Homo sapiens: one gene and its partner. The protein of the gene in region 1 purifies or fractionates together with the protein of each later gene. This does not show direct contact. Each region holds a gene or a part of one and is shown on either strand. Other genes may lie near its edges.

Region 1 (3,500 bases):
CAGGTTCAAGCAATTCTTCCTTCTCAGCCTCCCATGTAGCTGGGATTACAGGCATGCTGACCACCATGCCTGGCTAATTTTGTATTTTTAGTAGAGACGGGGTTTCTCCCTGTTGGTCAGGCTCATCTCGAACTCCCAACCTCAGGTGATCCGCCCACCTTGGCCTCCCAAAGTGCTGGCATTACAGGCATGAGCCACCCTGCCTATAGTGTTAACTGAAGTAACTAAATTTAGACATGTTGGAAAATAGAGTTTGTTTCTTCAGGTAGACTTGTATATGTACTAATCTCATTGGAAAACTAATTTCATGATAGTATCTATTCAATTAGAGTTGGTGAGCTCTGTTCTATATTTTTAAATGGAGTCTTATTTTCAGTAGTGAATTTCCTGTGTGACTTCCCCCAAAGATATGAAAAGTTTACATTAAAAATCGTAATACAGTGAACTCTAGGATGAGAGATTATTCCTTTGAACAGATTATGTCTGCTCCTTTTATTGTATTTTAACTATTTTCTTTCCTCTCCTTCGAACTACGCAGTCAGTTGCTATGCAGAATTGATAGTTTGCTGTTACGAACCTAGATGTTCTCAAAAAAAGAAAAGAATTATCCAGAGTTTATTTGACAGTGATGGAGAAAGGAAGGTGTATAGGTCAGGAGTAGTTTCACTTTTAGGAATTAATTGGTTCAGCATATAGTCATTGAGCACCTACTGTGGGCCAGGCACTCTGCTTGGAACAGAAACAGTTCTGTCTTCTCTGGGATGCTAATGCAGGTATTTCTATTGACCTGGCCAACTGTAAGGTGAAGATGAAATTCAAAGACTGCGTGGAGTAACCCGAGCAAGTTCCTCTTTACTTTTTCTGGTATCAATTCTAACTTTTTGTTTTTTTTTGGTGATATTAACCTTTGGAAGGAACTGTATGTTAGATTTTCGGCAGCTGAGTGGTTTTGATCCTTTTGGGAGATCAACTGTGTTGGAATACGTTTAAGAGGAGTTTTTGTGAAGACATTGGAACTTTAGTGTGTTCTTTTCACATTGATAAGTACTGAGGAGAATCCATGGGATACTGTGATTAAAAGTTTTTAGGCCAGGCCTGGTGGCTCAGGCCTGTAATCCCAGCACTTTGGGATGCCGAGGGGGGGGTGGATCACCTGAGGTCAGGAGTTCAGGACCAGCCTGGCCAATATGGTGAAACCCCATCTCTACAGAATACAAAAATCAGCCCGGCATGATGGTGGGTGCCTGTAATCCCAGCTACTCGGTAGGCTGAGGCAGGATAATCGCTTGAACCCAGGAGGCGGAGGTTGTAGCGAGCCTAGATTGTGCCACTGCACTCCAGCCTGGGCAACAGAGCAAGACTCCATCTCAAAAAAAAAAAAAAAAAAAAGTTTTTACCCATGTTATAAGGGAAATTTTTGAGCTAACTTTAGAGTGTGGTAGTTAATGGTGAGTTTATTTATTAAAGTGTTTATTTACTATGTGCCAGGCGTTATTTTAATGCTGTATATATATTAACTCATTTAATCCTCTAACATAACTAGCTACTGTTAGGTTAGTTAGTTATTAATAACATAACAGTACCAGCAGTGAAATAGCTACTGTTATTTTACAGGTGAAGAAACTGAGGCATAAAAGAGATTTCAGTAACTTGCTGAAGTCACACAAATATTAGGTGGCAGAGCTGGGATTTGAATTTGGGCAGTCTGGCTCCAGAGTCTTTGTAATAGCCATACTGACCACCTCTTAGGAGCAGTAATGTATGATGGCTATCACTGCACTCAAGTACAGAATCGTGAATGTCCTTGGTGTTAACTTCATAGCACATTTCCTAATTGTTAAAGGACAAATTCCCGCCCGTCTTCATTGTGTCCATTTTTCTTTTTTTGCAGAACAGATTTGAAAATTCACTTTGGACCAGTGATAAGAATGTGTTAGGAACCAAAGATTAGGAGTAATCTAGTTTTGTATATCTGAGGTCCATTAAAAAAAAGTTTCACCTACATGCCATTTTTTTCCCTTAAAGATAATTTCTGTGCTAACTAATTTTCATTTCAGTTGTCACTAACATTTTCTGATAGGCAAGGTAGGGATCAGTTGTATTGCTATACCAGAGTGCTTTAATTTGGGACAGAAATACTGTTTTCCTTGAATCATGGGATTATAGGTGAGGAGAAGAGTGTGTAACTGGCTTAAATAGCATCTTCCTCTTTGTAAATTTCTTTTTGAAATATAGATATTACTGTAAGGTAATTTGTTCCATTTACTTCAGTTATTCATTATTTATTTAGCAAACATTTGAATGCCTGCCATGAACAGTGGATTTAAGATTTAGGTCCTGTGAGGGGATTAAAGCAGACAGAATAGAGATACAAAATAAATTTTTTGAAAGCCTTTTTTAGTTTATGAACTGTAATTTTTTTACATTATTATTTTTTCATAACAATTAAGTATCATGACTCAGAAATAATAATATGTTTAGTGGGCAAGGCAATTATTTGAGACTGTGATGGTCCATTTAAAAAATTATCTTTATATAGTGAGTCTTGGAAAGATTCAATTTCCTTTCAAGAATAGTTTTCACCTTGATTTCAAACTTCTGAGTTCATTTTTACACACTGACATAATTTACTTGAATATATATAGTTTGTGTTCTGTATTACTAGCCCAGAAAAATATTCTCTTTCATGGTAATCAGCCAGATCATTAAAAGTATTGTTATTTGGTGGCATAGTATTTTGGAACAGAATTATAATTTGCTAAAGCGTTCAGTTGGACAGGGAAGAGTAGGTATTGTCAACTAATGTTATTGTTCAGGTTACTCCCAGCTGGGTAACCTGGAGCAGAAAGATCCAATGATAAATCTCTTGCCTTCTACTCTAAGTTACATCTCAATTTGGTCAACTCTTAGTAGAGTCCAAATTATTTTGTTTTATTGGAATTTATATTTTAAATTATAGAGGAAGTAGAGCTTTGACAGGAATTTAGAATTTAAATTTTCGATGTAGAGATACTGATTAAAATGGGGATTTTTTTTTTTTTTTTGAGAGATGGAGTCTTGCTTTGTTGCCCAGGCTGGAGTGCAGTGGTGCAACCTCCACCTCCTGGGTTCAAGCGATTCTCCTGCCTCAGCCTCCCGAGTAAGCTGGGATTATAGGCGCATGCCACCATGCCCGGCTAATTTTTATATTTTTAGTAGAGATGGGGTTTCACCAGGTTGGCCAGGCTGGTCTCGAACTCCTGACCTCATGATCCGCCTGCCTCGGCCTCCCAGAGTGCTGGGATTATAGGCGTGAGCCACCGTGCCCGGCCAGGGATATGTTTTTAAGTTACTGAAAGTTAAGAGTGATGAAGTTTTGATTTAGCTATTTGGAAATGACCTTTATAGTAGAATAGTTGCACATTTTATATGTTAGAATGGTGGTATTTTATAAGAAAATTGTTAACCAATATAAGCTTGGAAATTTCAATTTCAATTACTCTGTTGCGTTGATACTGTAT
Region 2 (3,500 bases), on another chromosome or scaffold:
CTGGTGGTTCCTTCCGAATACGACGGGCCTGGGATTTGGGATTGGGCTGAGTTTTAGGCCGTTGCTTCCTCCCTGACATAAGACAGAAACTTGAAGCCCAGCATGTCACCCTTGCTAATACCAAAATCTCTTCCCTCTCCTCCTCTTCAACACCCTATTTCCCAGTCCCTCAACCGACTGACTGCCTAAGTCAGGACAGAATGAAAGGGTATAATGAGGCAGGATGGAGGCCATTCCCTCCCAAACAATTCAAAGGGCTCAGAGGTCACTGAAGGGCTCAAACTAAGGCTTCTCTTTCCTTTACCCTCAAAGAATAAAGCTCAGTCACCCAAGGAAAAAGAAGTAGCAAAGTTACTGCCTTACCATAAAGCTTATGCTTCTTCTGAGGAAATTCTCGATAGTCTTCATCTTCTTCCTGCCTGGGTTTCCTTTTCCCCTTGGCTGATACTCCACCTGACCCTGAAGTACCATACAAAAACAAAACAAAAACTCAGCACACTTTGTAAATGAACATCTAGGCCTGTCTTCAAAACATCATTCACAAGACCATCAAAAGGAAAGATCATCAGTGAACACAGGCCTCAGAGAAATGTCTGTGACATTTTTAGAGAAGTTGGTGTAACTTCTCATTAACTGACCCACTCTCCCTTTCTTTTTATATTGTTATCTATTCCAAATCATCCATTGTTCCTTATGAATAATAAGGGCATTCAAGCAATGTGTTTTGCTTAATCTTGACTTGAGGCTAACAAGAGGATAAGAATTGCTCAAGATAGAGGGCTAGCCACCAAGGACCCTTGAGATTGTGACGATCCAGAATATTCTCCCCTGAATAATCCTTACACCAGCCCCTAAATCATCAACAGAGGATCACACTAGAAGAAAAGGGGGGCCAGCCATGGTGACTCACATCTGTAATCCCAGCACTTTGAGATTACAGACTTTGGCCAAAGTGGGCGGATTACCTGAGGTCAGGAGTTCAAGACCAGCCTGACCAACATGGAGAAACCCCGTCTCTGCTAAAAATACAAAATTAGCCAGGTGTGGTGGCACATGCCTGTAATCCCAGCTACTCAGCTGGCATTACAAGCTGAGGCAGGAGAATCGCTTGAACCCAGGAGAAGGAGGGTGCGGTGAGCCTGAGCTCGAGTCATTGCACTCTAGTCTGGGCAAGAAGAGTGAAACTCCGTCTCAAAAAAAAAAGAAGAAGAAAAGGGGAATTCAAATACTACAAAGAGGAAAATCAAATGCTAAATATAATCTAGAGGAGTAAGATTAGCAGAATTTCACTCTATCACATAGCAGTTCATGAAGCTAATGGGACAGGATGCAATTGCCTAACACCTTAAATTTTTTTAAATCACTAATGAGAAACAAATATGTGGCATTTCATACTCTTTTTTTTTTTTTTTTGAGACGGAGTCTCGCTCTTTCGCCCAGGCTACAGTGCAATGGTGCGATCTCTGCTCAGTGCAACCTCTGCCTCCCAGGTTCATGCCATTCTCCTGCCTCAGCCTCCTGAGTAGCTGGGACTACAGGCGCCCACCACCAGGCCCCGCTAATTTTTTGTATTTTTAGTAGAGACGGGGTTTCACCATGTTAGCCAGGATGGTCTCGATCTCCTGACCTTGTGATCCGCCCGCCTCGACCTCCCAAAGTGCTGGGATTACAGGCGTGAGCCACCACGCTCAGCCGCCATTTAATACTTTTAAGAGGTATTTATAACAATCTCAAACTATAACTTTAGGAAGTGGCCCGTCTTCAGAATAAGACACTGATATTGATACCTTCGACATGAGAAGTAGCAGCTGGCTTGATTCTTCTCATCTTCATCCAGTAGGTAGATTTTCGGAAAGATGCTGGAAAATCACTCACTGGTTCACACGAAGATGCAGACGATGAACCACTTAAGGAGTCATCATGAGGGATAGTGTACTGGAAACTATTATCCTTTATGGAGCACTGGGTCCTGCTACTAATACAACATAAAAATATATACCACAAAGGAAGGTCTGGAGCAAAATTTCTATACATTCTTTTACATTATAACCAAGTTGGTTACCTCTGCAGAAAACTAAGAAGCCTGCTATAAAAACAGAATGTAAGTTGTAATCACCTAACAATAACAATAGTTGATCTAACACAACATGTACAATTATTATCACACTTCATTGTAATAAGAGTAAGCAGTACACATAAATGATCACTTTGCAGCCCAAGTAGACATTCCTTCCTAGATTCATCTAATAAAAGAAAGTAGGTGAAGCAATAAAGGTGTTCTATGACCCTTCAGAAGACTCCCTGGATTTGTAACCTGGTATGTCCCAGCCTCTCTCTTTCTCTGACAGAGGGATGGCAACTAAAGGGTATCTCTAAGGGAAAGGAATAGTCTGTGGGCCCTAATCTGACTCATCTTCCTTCTGCCTCAGCATTCTCCCTAAAACCTGATGCCCTATCTTATTTAGGCAACATGATACTTAGCTTCCACAGCTAAAGGATGGATGCTATCTTGCATGAATTAACCTGGCCAGAGATTTCTGGTATACAGCTGAATCCAGATTCCAAAATCTAAGACCAGTCAGTATGACAGCTAAAAAACATTACTCTGTAACTACAAAGCATCAGACATTCTTCTAGGTGGCTCAAGATGCAGCAGAGCAGCAGTTCTCCAAGAGTGGTCAATGGACTCCTAGAACCTCCCTTTTCCAGCTAAATACCTGTGAGGCCTACTTTAGATTTATGGTTCAGAAAGATCCTTCTGGCTGCTCTATGGAGACAGCCCATGGGAGAAAGAGTAAACAAAAGGAAAAAAGTTAACTTGAATTGGCAGATTCAAGGTAACACTTTAGATGTAGAGCTAATAAGAATTACACATAGAGAGGTTTGCTTATGACATCAGGGAGTTGGAAGTAACACAGTGACCATCCTTGCAAAATGTGATAGATGCCTACTATGGAATACTGTGCTGCTGTTAGAAGCAATAAACTAATTCTACACATAGAGACACGACCATAACTAAAAAGTATATTGTTGAATGAAAAAAGAAACAAAACAGTATCTCTAGCACAATGTCAGTTCAGCAAGCTAAAAACAAATCCACACATAAAGCAGCTTATTTTAAAGCTTATTTTTTAAAGGAGTCATAAATATTTAAGTGCAAACATCACACTTGTTTATACAGTTTCCTCTAGGAGGGAGGGGATGGAAATGGGGATGAGTAAACATAACAGAGACTGGTTATGTCAGTATGTTACAAATAGGGAAGAATGAGTTTCGGCTCTCCACACATGAGGTCCAATAACACAAATTTAATACACAGAAGTCCTGGCTCTGGAGGGGCAGCTAAGCCCACTAAGGCCCACCCCTCCTGCTCACTGGACTCTGTAAAACAAACAAAAACAAGTAAATTATGCAGGGGAGTCAAAGTTGGGAGAAGTGCCCCAAATGGGGTGAGTTTTCCAATTCTGTCTTTTTCCCTCAAGTAAGAATTTGCAATGAGG

Evidence for each region. The genes of interacting proteins can lie anywhere in the genome.
Region 2: the proteins of KAT6A (region 1) and ZNF512 purify together in Homo sapiens (affinity purification with mass spectrometry, with the first as the bait; one large-scale study listed by BioGRID). This does not show direct contact.

Annotation. Positions count from the first base shown.
Region 1 is NC_000008.11:42,041,988-42,045,487, reverse strand, and holds part of KAT6A (histone acetyltransferase KAT6A), read left to right. Parts: intron 1-1,912; exon of another isoform or gene 1,913-1,984; intron 1,985-3,500. UniProt on the Homo sapiens protein: Histone acetyltransferase that acetylates lysine residues in histone H3 and histone H4 (in vitro). Component of the MOZ/MORF complex which has a histone H3 acetyltransferase activity. May act as a transcriptional coactivator for RUNX1 and RUNX2.
Region 2 is NC_000002.12:27,596,542-27,600,041, reverse strand, and holds part of ZNF512 (zinc finger protein 512), read right to left. Parts: intron 1,976-3,500; coding exon 1,788-1,975; intron 460-1,787; coding exon 364-459; intron 73-363; coding exon 1-72. UniProt on the Homo sapiens protein: May be involved in transcriptional regulation.